Regions from separate parts of the Homo sapiens genome. Here region 2 is linked to region 1. The links come from fine-mapping of genetic effects on gene expression. Tissue or cell type: prefrontal cortex. Region 1 holds a variant in brackets; the other region holds the start of a gene. All regions are shown on one strand. Distances are between the middles of the regions.

The links. PIP is the estimated chance that this variant, and not a neighbour inherited with it, causes the effect.
Region 2: EMID1 starts here. The variant in region 1 is fine-mapped to the expression of EMID1 in prefrontal cortex (ROSMAP, PIP 0.92).

Annotation. Positions count from the first base shown.
Region 1 is chr22:29,141,205-29,146,461 of GRCh38, reverse strand. KREMEN1 (kringle containing transmembrane protein 1) reads right to left here. Exons shown (of 9, transcript NM_001039570.3): 9 at 1-4,518. The coding sequence ends at 4,350. Among named protein-coding and RNA genes, the nearest start is that of EMID1, 62 kb to the left of the region's middle. RefSeq lists enhancers at 1-677, 4,464-4,963, 4,964-5,257. The variant A/C (reference allele first, on the strand shown) is at 2,252.
Region 2 is chr22:29,203,749-29,208,748 of GRCh38, reverse strand. EMID1 (EMI domain containing 1) reads right to left here and starts at 2,853. Exons shown (of 15, transcript NM_133455.4): 1 at 2,610-2,853. The coding sequence starts at 2,710. LOC101929638 (a long non-coding RNA gene) reads left to right here and starts at 2,917. Exons shown (of 5, transcript XR_938134.3): 1 at 2,917-3,278; 2 at 3,428-3,589. RefSeq lists silencers at 2,419-2,478, 2,499-2,658, 2,669-2,758.

The DNA.
Region 1 (5,257 bases):
CTTTCTGAAGCAGATTTCCCTCTGACTTTCCTCCACACCCCACTTCTGCCTCCGTACCCAACTCAGCAAGACGGAAGCCTGTGAGATGTGCCCACCAGGGGTCTGCAGGCAGAGGGTGAAGCCCTGTCACCCCGGAGCCGTCCAGCCTGAGGGGAGACAGCTGTGGCTGGAAGGCTTGAAAAACACCCCACACCAGGGAAGCTAAGCTGAGACCTGGCCAGGAGGTAGAACAGTGAGGAAGGTAAACAAAGACACCAGAGGAAACAATCCAAACTCCCAAGGTAGGAACAAAAGCCGACATCAAACACCACACGGGAGATCTGAAACCTAACGGTGCCAGGTGGTGGGGTGTGGAGCTGCCCGGCTCCGTGGGAGACCTGGCCTGACCTCAGCAGACCAGGGAGGCAGGGTCTCGGAGGCCATCCGCGTATAAGTGCTTGTGAAGAGTAAGCGTGCAGTGCCAGGATGCATCGGGGCTGGGTGATGGCCTGGCTGGGCTGCAGGCAGATCCTGAGCCCGGCCAGGAAGGCTCCTGCCTGGGCTGACAGTGGGGCATGTGGGTGGAGCCGCACCCAGGCACGCCCGTGGGTTCTACCCGAGGGCCAGGACAGCTGAACTTGCTAGTGCTTTGATCTCTGTGGGCTTCTGGCCGATTGGAGTCTTGAGCCAGAGCCCACTCTTCAGAAGTTAGAGCAGCCTGGTTTCCTCGCTCACGCCCAGAGAGGCCTCAAGCCTGTCCTGACGTGGGGGACAGGGCGGGTGAAGTCACTCGGGTTCACTCCTACTCATTCTCTGCTTTGCAAGCAACTGGACAAACGGGGAAGAACAGGGCACCGTGTGCCTCCCGCCTGCCTTCTCAGAAGGGCCAAGGACACTGAGAAACGCTGCTAGAAACTAGGGGCCACAGCTGGCCAAGACACTGTCACCACGGAGAGTGACAAGATCGGCTGGTGAGGGCTCTCCTGTTGGCACAGGTACCAAGAAGGCAGGGCCTGGCGCCAGCGGGGAACAGGGGTGAGGATGGCACGCAGGCCCAGTGCAGCCTCCTCCCACGCTCTGTCACCTCAGGAGGGGCTTTGGCCAGGGTGCTTTCAGAGCTCTGTCCACAGTGGTCCCCGAAGCCCCTCCCCTGCCTCTCCTGCAGTCTTCTGCCATGGGTTCTGACTGACTTTCCCAGGGTTACCCTCTTTTCGCCACCTCCAACCCCCACTTTATCTCATCTAAGGAGTTTCCTAAAAGTTCAAGTGCCACCTCCTCCATGCTCCTGGAAGCCCACGTCATCTCTTCTGGAGCAGTTTCTTTCTCAGGTGTTTACCTAGCCGCAGTGGCCTTCTGTGGGGTGTCGCTGACTTTCTACCTGGTTCTAACTGAGTCCATAGCCAGGCTGCGGCAGGAGCCAGTGCCCACGGAGGCTTAGCCTGGGATGATTTACAGCCCTCCTGCCCGTACGCTGTCCTGAGCCAGATTTGGGTTTCCCGGGGCTGCTCCACGGATCGTAAGTTGATCCTAGAGGCGCTGGGCCATGCCAGGGCGAGGCAGGAAGAGAAGCGCTGGGGCATCCCCAGCACCTCCCAGGCCCTCCGAGGAAGTGCTGCCCCCGCTGCAGGCTGTGACAGCACATTGGCTTGGGCATGGCCTCCCCTGACTGAGATGTGAGGAGGGCAAGGTGGGCATTTGGGCTGCAGGACACCCCAGAGGCCAGTGGTCAGTGTCAGCCCCAGGCAACTGAACAACTGCCCCCTGGCCGGGTGAACTCTTCCTGGGGCCACGTGCCACATTCCCTTTGTGCTGCACATGGATCTATTCACAGCACAGGACCCGTTGGGACGACACACACCTGACACTTATGTTTGAGAGAGATTCCACAAACAGCATGAATAGCTTGGAGGGGAGACTGCACGTGTTGGTATGTTTCCAGCGGTCCTCCTGTGTGACAGGCCTCTTGGAGACAGAGGCCTGCGGACAGCTGCTCTTTCCAGATCAAAGCATGAAGGCTGCACCGAGCAGCTCTGTGCCCTCAGCAGGCCTCCCACGGGGCCTGGGGTGGCAGTCCTGCCCCTGCCTGCCTGTGACACATTGCTCCGTTTCCCTCCTCTGAAGGCCCCTCTGCCTGAAGCTCCAAGCACCTCTCCTGAACTCAGGCTGCCGAGTGCCACCTCTCCCTGCAGACACTTCCTGTGTGGCCCTCTTTCCTCCCAGGGGCGGCAGGTGCAGAGGTGTTTCCAGAACCTCAGTAGGAGCCCCAGCAGGC[A/C]GTGGCTCAGGGCTTGGGGGAGGTAGGCAAAGTGCTGCAAAGAGGAAACGCCAAAGCCAGAGGCGCAACAATCACCCAGGCCCAAGTGCCTTGTGGAGAGGCACGCTCTGACGAGGGCCTAGGCCTGGCCAGCAGAGGCACAGGCTGCTTTTCTCAGCTGCTGTTGACAAAGCCTGATTCCAGATGGCAAGGACTTTTAAATTAGTGATGGCACTTACTCTCCCAACCAGCAGCCACTACAGCTGCAGCACTCAATCTTAGGAGGAGCTCCTTGGAGGAGCTCCAATTCCCAAACCCACCCTCTTCTGGCACCAATCTCTGCAGCCCACCTCCCTATCTAAGGGACAGGGTGGCAAGGGACTGGGGACAAGAGTGCTCTCCTTCCCCACTGAGCCATTCCTAACCCCACTTGGTCCCCACAGGAGGGGCAGAGAGCACGGATGGCCCTTGGAGTGTTTTTTTTTTTTTTGAGACAGAGTCTTGCACTGTCACCCAGGCTGGAGTGCAGTGGCGTGATCTCTGCTCACTGCAAGCTCCGCCTCCCGGGTTCACGCCATTCTCCTGCCTCAGCCTCCCGAGCAGCTGGGACTACAGGCGCCCACCACCACACCCAGCTAATTTTTTGTATTTTTAGTAGAGACGGGGTTTCACCATCTTAGCCAGGATGGTTTCGATCACCTGACCTCGTGATCCACCCGCCTCAGCCTCCCAAAGTGCTGGGATTACAGGCATGAGCCACCGCGCCCGGCCCTTGGGGTGTTTTTTATCTTTTAACACGGGGGACACCAGAAGGAAGGACCACAGGCCCCATGTCTCATATAGTGCTGCCTAAGGGCAAAAACACAAGATTGATACTCTCCACTCTGAACTGAGAGTTAGCTGAGCCAATCATGGAGAGACTGAGGCCTGGCTCAGGTTCCATAGGACCATGAGCTGCTCAGTGGCAAGGCTGATAAAGCCAATCCTGAGTACTTACTGAGTGCCCATAAAAGCTTGCAGGAGAATTTATTGCATGAGTAAATGAATGGATTTTTTTTGTTTATTTGTGTTTTGTTTTTTTGAGACAGAGTCTCACTCTTGTCACCCAGGCTGGAGTGCAGTGGTGCGATCTCGGCTCACTGCAATCTCAGCCTCCTGGGTTCAAGCTGTTCTTCTGTCTCAGCCTTCTGAGTAGCTGGGATTACAGGCGCCTGCCACCACGCCTGACTAATTTTTATATTTTTAGTAGAGACGGGGTTTCACCATGTTGGCCAGGCTGGTCTCGAACTCCTGACCTCAGGTGATCTGCCCGCCTCAGCCTCCCACAGTGCTGGGATTACAGGCATGAGCCATCGCGCCCAGCTGAATGGATGTTTTATATGACCAAAGCTCTTAAAGCTTTCCCTGCAGCTCCATGAGCTATGGAAAGAAGAATCTAGAAAGAAGCCCATGTGTAAGGTATCAGGTTTGATATAAATGGGGGTCACTAGATCTTATTCTCAGACCCTCCCAGGCTGAAGGAGGCCCACCCTAGTCCAGCATCTGGAGAGCAAAGCTGCCGGGGCAGCACAGACACTGCCCTCTTTACACCTCGCTAATGTCCAGGAGTCCGCACTTGTATGGGACCAACTCCCAAGAGTACCTGAGAGTTCTCCCTGTCTGGCCCTGTTCCAAGACATAAAGATCAGGAGAAACTGATTTGTGTGTGGACAAAAATAGAGAAGCAAGAAAAATTCAATGTAACTAAAGCTACCCACCACCTGACAGCCATCTAGAATGTACCTGAGCCCTGTGCCAGCCATGACCACCTCTGTCATCTCAGCCTCACTGTCCTGACACCCCCACTGCTAGCTAGATCAGAGAGAGATGCAGAGAGGGCCGGGCCCCAGGGCTTTGAGTCTCTCTCCTAAGTGCAATCGATGAAGCAGGAGGAATCCAGGCTCTGCCTGCCCTGGCAGCAGGGTGCCTCTTCCTAGTCTGTAGGAGGAGGGTTTCCCCGAAGAGGCCGAGGCAGAGGGAGAGGAGGGGAAGAGTCTGTCAGAGAAGAACCACAGGAGAGGTTGACCACGGCAGCCTTGAGCTCAAAGAGGGACCTCAAGTCCTAGGCACAGTGGGGTTTTTAGTCACTCACAAGGGGATTGCGGTCATCTTGTTGACTCTGACCCTTGAGTTTCTTCTTAAAGATGGAAATTGAAGTGGAAGGCTTGTAAAAAATGCTCCAGATTTCCCCCGAAGTCCCTGGTTGATGACAATCCCTAAGGTCCCCTGAAGCAGGAACACGATGGGATCTGTCAAGCAGATAAATATTTTTTCCAATAGATTAGAACAACGCAAACAACCTACCATCTCACGAGATACTGTATCTATGAAATGGGGTGGGGCAAGGTCTTGGGAAGGACCTCACAGCCACCTCTAAAGATCTGAAGGACTAGCGTGCAACTGAAATGTGGCCTGTGGGCAGCAGGGGCTGAGGCCAAGTGCAGCAGGGCAGCGTCTGCATCAGAATAACAAAGAACTTTCTAACTAGCAGAATTCTTCAAATCTGGAAAAGCCCAGCCTGAGAGATTATGGATTTTCAAATTCTTTTATTTTAAATAAAAGAACTGTCTTCAAATGCCATTTACCTGGAAGCCCACCTAGCTAAAACAAGATAAACACAAAACTTCTCTGCTTCAAGCAGAGACCCGTCTAGCCTCCGGTGCTGGCCCGGACTCTGTTCAGCCCCCACGGCTGCCTGGCAGGGAAGCTGCAGCCGATGTCAGAGGAGAGTTAGGCATGCACTTTAGGGCCTCAGCCATGCTATCAGATGCTGGACGCTATAGGAAGCATTGGGCTCTCTTGCTGCCACAGGGGATGTGGTCAGGACTGAGCCTGAGAGGCTTCCCCAGAGCATGTGAATTGTGACTTTAAAACACACATACACACACACACAGACACACACACACAGACACAGACACACACACACACACATGCACATGCAGACACACACACACACACACACACACGAGGACATTATTTCCACTAAAA
Region 2 (5,000 bases), 62 kb before region 1:
TCTTCACAAGGTCTTCCCCTTGGAATAGGGATTATCAGGTTCTGCATTTTACAGAGGGGGAAACAGGCTCCAAGAGAAAGCACCTACCCAGGTCACCCCTGTGGGCATCAGCTGGGATTGCAGCCCCCTAGACAGAGGCTGGGGCAGATCCCCTCCATTTTAGAGCCCTCCATTCTCCCTGATCCTAGGATTTGCCGGAAGGAAGCCGGTGCTGCAGGGGCGAGAGATCTGGGCTGGTGAAGGCTTGAACCCTCAGCTGAAACGCTGAGATGAGTGGTTAAAGGAAGCAGACTCCAGGCTTAGAAGGACCTCAGCGGGGCAGGAAGCAGCCCCAGGGGCAGGGGCAAGCCAAGGCAGCTCTGCATAGCCCTTGGGCACCCTGGTTCCGGGGGTCTCCAAGTGTCACCACCTTCCTGGGGCAAGGGGCGGCCCCCTGGATGCCTTCCCAGGCCACCCCCTCCCCAGGACAAAGCCTCTTTTCTGCGTCTGGTCCCTTGGCTGCCAAGGGGTGCCTGGGGTGCTGGGGTGTGGGTGGCAGGAAGGCTGACAGGGCATGACACCCCCATGCTGTCTCCAGCAACGTGGGGATGGGGCCACAAGTGGAGGTTCTGGTAGCCCACAGACTCCTCAAGCTCCAGGTCCCTACCCCCATGTGACATGATTGATAGCAGGAACCACTGCAGGTGAGGCCCGGTGCTGGTCCTTCCCACGAGGAAAGAAGGAAACTGAGAGCAAAACTGAGACCCATGGCCAGGAAGTGACCCACTTGAGGTCACACATCAAGCCTGTAAGAGCAAGGAATTCTGTCTCCATTCTGTCCAAGGCTGGAGCCCCTAACTCCTAATCATGACTGCAAACCTTTCCTGGTGCCCCCAAGCCGACAACCTCTTTCCCTCTTCCAGCAAGGCTGCTGGAGAGAAAAAGCCACTGGATTTGGAAATCGACTGGTCTGGACTGAGGTGCCACTTGTCCTCTGTAGGCCTCAGCCTCCGTATCTGTACAATGGGTGCAATAGTGTTGCCCACAGGGTTTTTGGGATGCTCAGGCTACTGTGATAGGCTTCTGTCAACACATGGAGTGACAGTCCCCAGTGACCACCAGATACCTGGTTATAGCCATCATCCTGTTCCCACCCAGGAGACCCTGGGAGGTGAGGAGCCCAGGCTGGGAAGCCCTGCCTTGAACTGGCTGCAGGGCGGTCTGGGCCTTAAGCTGTCGCCACCATCATCCTGAGCCTAACAGTGGGATTTCTGAGTTCATAGTCTCTGTCCTCTTAGCATCTGGGATCCTGGCGGCTCACTTCCATGCTCTGGGCAGGTCATGTTCCCTCTCTGAGCCTCATCTTCCTCCTCTATGAAACAGAATCATAAAGAGCATACCTCCAAGCAGCTGGGAGGATTCTGGAGCTGATGAATGCAGGTAACGGAGCCGACTCAGGCTAACTGTTGTCTGCACACAATAGGTGGTGGCTGTAACATCTGCCACACGTCCACCCCTGTCTCAGACAACTGCTCTTCTGGCCTCTGATGCTTCAACCACCTCCGTCCTCCAGCCCTGCCCATGTCAACTGCTCTTGCTAGCCCAGCAGGGGCATGCTGGCCCCTGACCACTGGGAAAGGAGAATTTCTGAAAAGAATTAAAGAATTGAGGCCGTAGGGGGTGGGGGCCGCGCAGGCCTTTGAATGGGATGAAAAGGCCTGGAGAGGCCTGGCTACTCCACATTGTCTGCCTTGGACAACGGCGGCTGGCCTTTAGGAGGGGACCCTCGCTGGGGCTGCAGCCAGGACAGAGGCCAGGACAGGTTCAAACACTGTCATCAAGGATAGAAGGGCAGATTTGCAACCTAGCTCTTCAGTGAATAGCCCATGAGGCTAAAAGATGATGCCAATTCCCTAGGGTCTCAGTTTGCTTAACCGTTGAATGGGGACAGTTTTCCCTACCTCATTCGGTCCTTCAAGGATTGATGAGGACACTATATATAATAATGGGCCCCACCATGTCAGGTTCTGGGAGCTCCTCCGTAAAGGCCAGCAGGGAGGAGGTTCCCCGCCGCTAGGAGAGCAGAAGGAAGACTGTGCTCCCTCTTTTCTCTGTCCAAAATGCCAGGTCCCTGGGGTATCTCCGACACTGACCCACTGGGCTGTGAGACTCCACCCCAGTCCCTCCTCCGAGGGAGATAAATAGCCTGGGTACAAAACAAACAAACAAAAAACAAAACAAAGCAAAAAAACAGGAACAGGGAAAAGGGGAGAGAGGGTCCGAGAAGAGTCGGCTAGGGGGTGTCATAGGCCTTTCCCAAGTGCAGGGGGAGGGGCCCTAGGGACAGGGGAACAGAAGGGCCAGGGCTTCGCCCTCGTTGCGCCCCTTCCCCCTCCTCTCGAGCTCCTGGGTTGAAAGGGAGGGAGTAGGGGAGGCAGCCAGCTCCGACACATGGAGTAGGGGACCCCGCACTCGCGGGAGCCTCAGCCGGACCGCGGGATGGCCGTGTCCCTGCCCTCACCCGGGCTGGGGACTGGATCGCCCTCCAATCCCAGCCCTTCCTGGAGGTGGGGGCGTGTGCGCGCCGGGACCCTCGGCCAGCGGGGTGCAAAGGCGCCGGGAGCTCTTACCTGCGTCCGGAGAACGGAGCTGCCCCGATGCTCCACGCAGCGCCGCCTCCCGGGAGCAGGAGCCCGAGGCAGAGCAGCGCCCAAGCCCGCGGGCCGCCCATGCTGCACCAGGCGCCCTCCGCGCGCGGCCCCTCGCGGTCGCCGCCCCCAGCCTGTCCTCCCCGCCTGCCTGCCCGCGCCGCCAGCCGCCCCGGACGCGCGGAGCCCGGTTTCCAGCTCCGCGGCCGGAGGGCGGGCAGGAGGCGGGCGGGCGGGGGCGGGGGCGCGCGCTCCCGGCCTCGCCCGGCCCCTCTGCGCTGCCCCCCGCCCCCTGCGCCGCCGCTGCCAACCCGGAAGGAGCCCGGAGGGGCCCGGGCGGCCAGGGCGCCCCCGCCAGGAGGCCCGCCAGGTGTCCACCTGAGCCCCACGCCCTGCGCCGCGGGGCCCTTTTGGGGGCGGGGTGCCAGCTCCGAGGTGTCCTCCCACGGGCTGTAGACTGGGAAACTGAGGCCCGGGCCACGGTCCCAGACGCAGCCGGGACCCGAACCCACCTCACCTGAGCGAATGATATCCGGGACTCATCCTTTTTCGACACCTTTGCGGGATCCAGCCCTCCAAGGAAAGCTTCCTGAGCAGTGCGCGCCACGTGTATTGGGCACCTCACCGCGGCCACTTCACATCCTATCTCAGGTGACTCTTCAAGCCACTCTGCTCGAACTGGGCACAATATCCCCATTTTACAGAAGAGAAAACTGAGGCCCAGGCACTCGCAGTCTCCCTAGGAGGAGATCTGGGCTGACCCCATAAGTGCAGAGTCTGTTCTTATTCTCATTTTACAGGTGGAGAAACTAAGCCACAGAAAGGAGCTGTCATTTACCTAAAGCACCGTGGCAGGGGTTTGGCAGAGCCAGGATTTGTACCCAGATCGCCTGACTTCGGAGAGTAACAGCTCTTAACCACAGCACTTCGGTCTATGCCTTGATTTCACCATATGTAACAAGGTAAGAATTGGTGTTGGGTGGTTTCATCTGGGGTACATGGATGGGCTTCTGGAGGAATGGCTCTACATCCCACAAAGGTATATGTAAGCGTAGTGTGTGTGTGCAGGGGTGCATGTGTGTGTCGTATGTGTGTATGATGGATGTGTGTGCATGCTTGATGTGGATTTATGTGCATGTGTGTTATGTGTGTGTCTGTGATAGGAGTGTGTGTTTATAGGGAGAGACCAGAGCTCTCATCAGAGGGGACCCAGACCCCCAATCTCCCAGGGCAGTCTCTAACCCCGCCTTCTGCCTGGATCGATGGGCAGTAGTTAGGCCTGGGCTGGGGAAGCCCTTGCCCAGCTTGGCTACTTCCTGTTATGGCTTGTCCAGACCCACGGTCCCTTCTAGAAACACTCCCCAGAAAGGATCTGCCAGTCACTGGATTGCCCCTCCTGGACTCACCAGGGGCAGGCAGCATAGGCCACCATAGGCAGGCAGGCAGGCAGGACGGGGGATCCATCACCAGTGTGTCCACATAGAGAAAGCTGTTGCCCTGTCCCAAGGGACAGGTAGTGAGAGCTGGGTTCAAACCCTGCCTCTGCTACTTCTGCTCCAGTTAGCTCAGGCAAGTCTTGCCCCTCTCGCAGCCTCAGTGTTTCTTTTGCAGGGAGGACAGTTGTACATTCGTTACAGGAGTGTGGGAAGGATTGAGATATCATGGTAATGGCCTGTCACCCACTCTCCCCTACTTCACATAGTCCCCCAAGGGCTCCCTCTCCCTCCAGCGACATCACCATGGTGCCAATGTTGCCCCCTTGGGGAGCTGTTGCCCTCCTTTTCACGTGAAATTTTGGCACATCTCCTGTGCCATCTCTCTGACCTCCAAGAAATGCAGCTTTGTACCTCTCTGGTTAGCCCTTGTTTTTGACACAGCTAGATCAGTGACTTAACACCCTGGATAATTCGTCACTCCTGAGGAGCCATGCCCCCAAGAGGATGCCAGGCCTGTCTGAAACCCCAATCAAGCGGCCCAGATAAAAACCCATCACCCCAGGGGTGCTTTGAGCTGTTTAGGAAGCTCAAACATGCAGCTGTTTAGGAAGGAGAAGCACTGGATAATGCCTTGGAGGGACTGAGAGGTGTCTAGGGTGTCAGATGGGTGCCACAGAATGAGGAGGCACTACTAGGTCTGTTTGCAACATGTCTGAGATGCTCCTGCGATTAATGGCATCCACATTTCTTAACCAATGCCATCAAACTTGTGGCAGACTCAGGCCGCTGCAGAATTTCCCCAGCAAGAGACTCTCCTGGTAAAAGCTGTTATCAACATTTTCACATCAGAGAGGGGCCTGTCCTTACTGAGGCTGGGATTCCCGGGTCCAGGGTATTTATTTATCACTGTAGACCCGGATAAATAAATATAGATTTA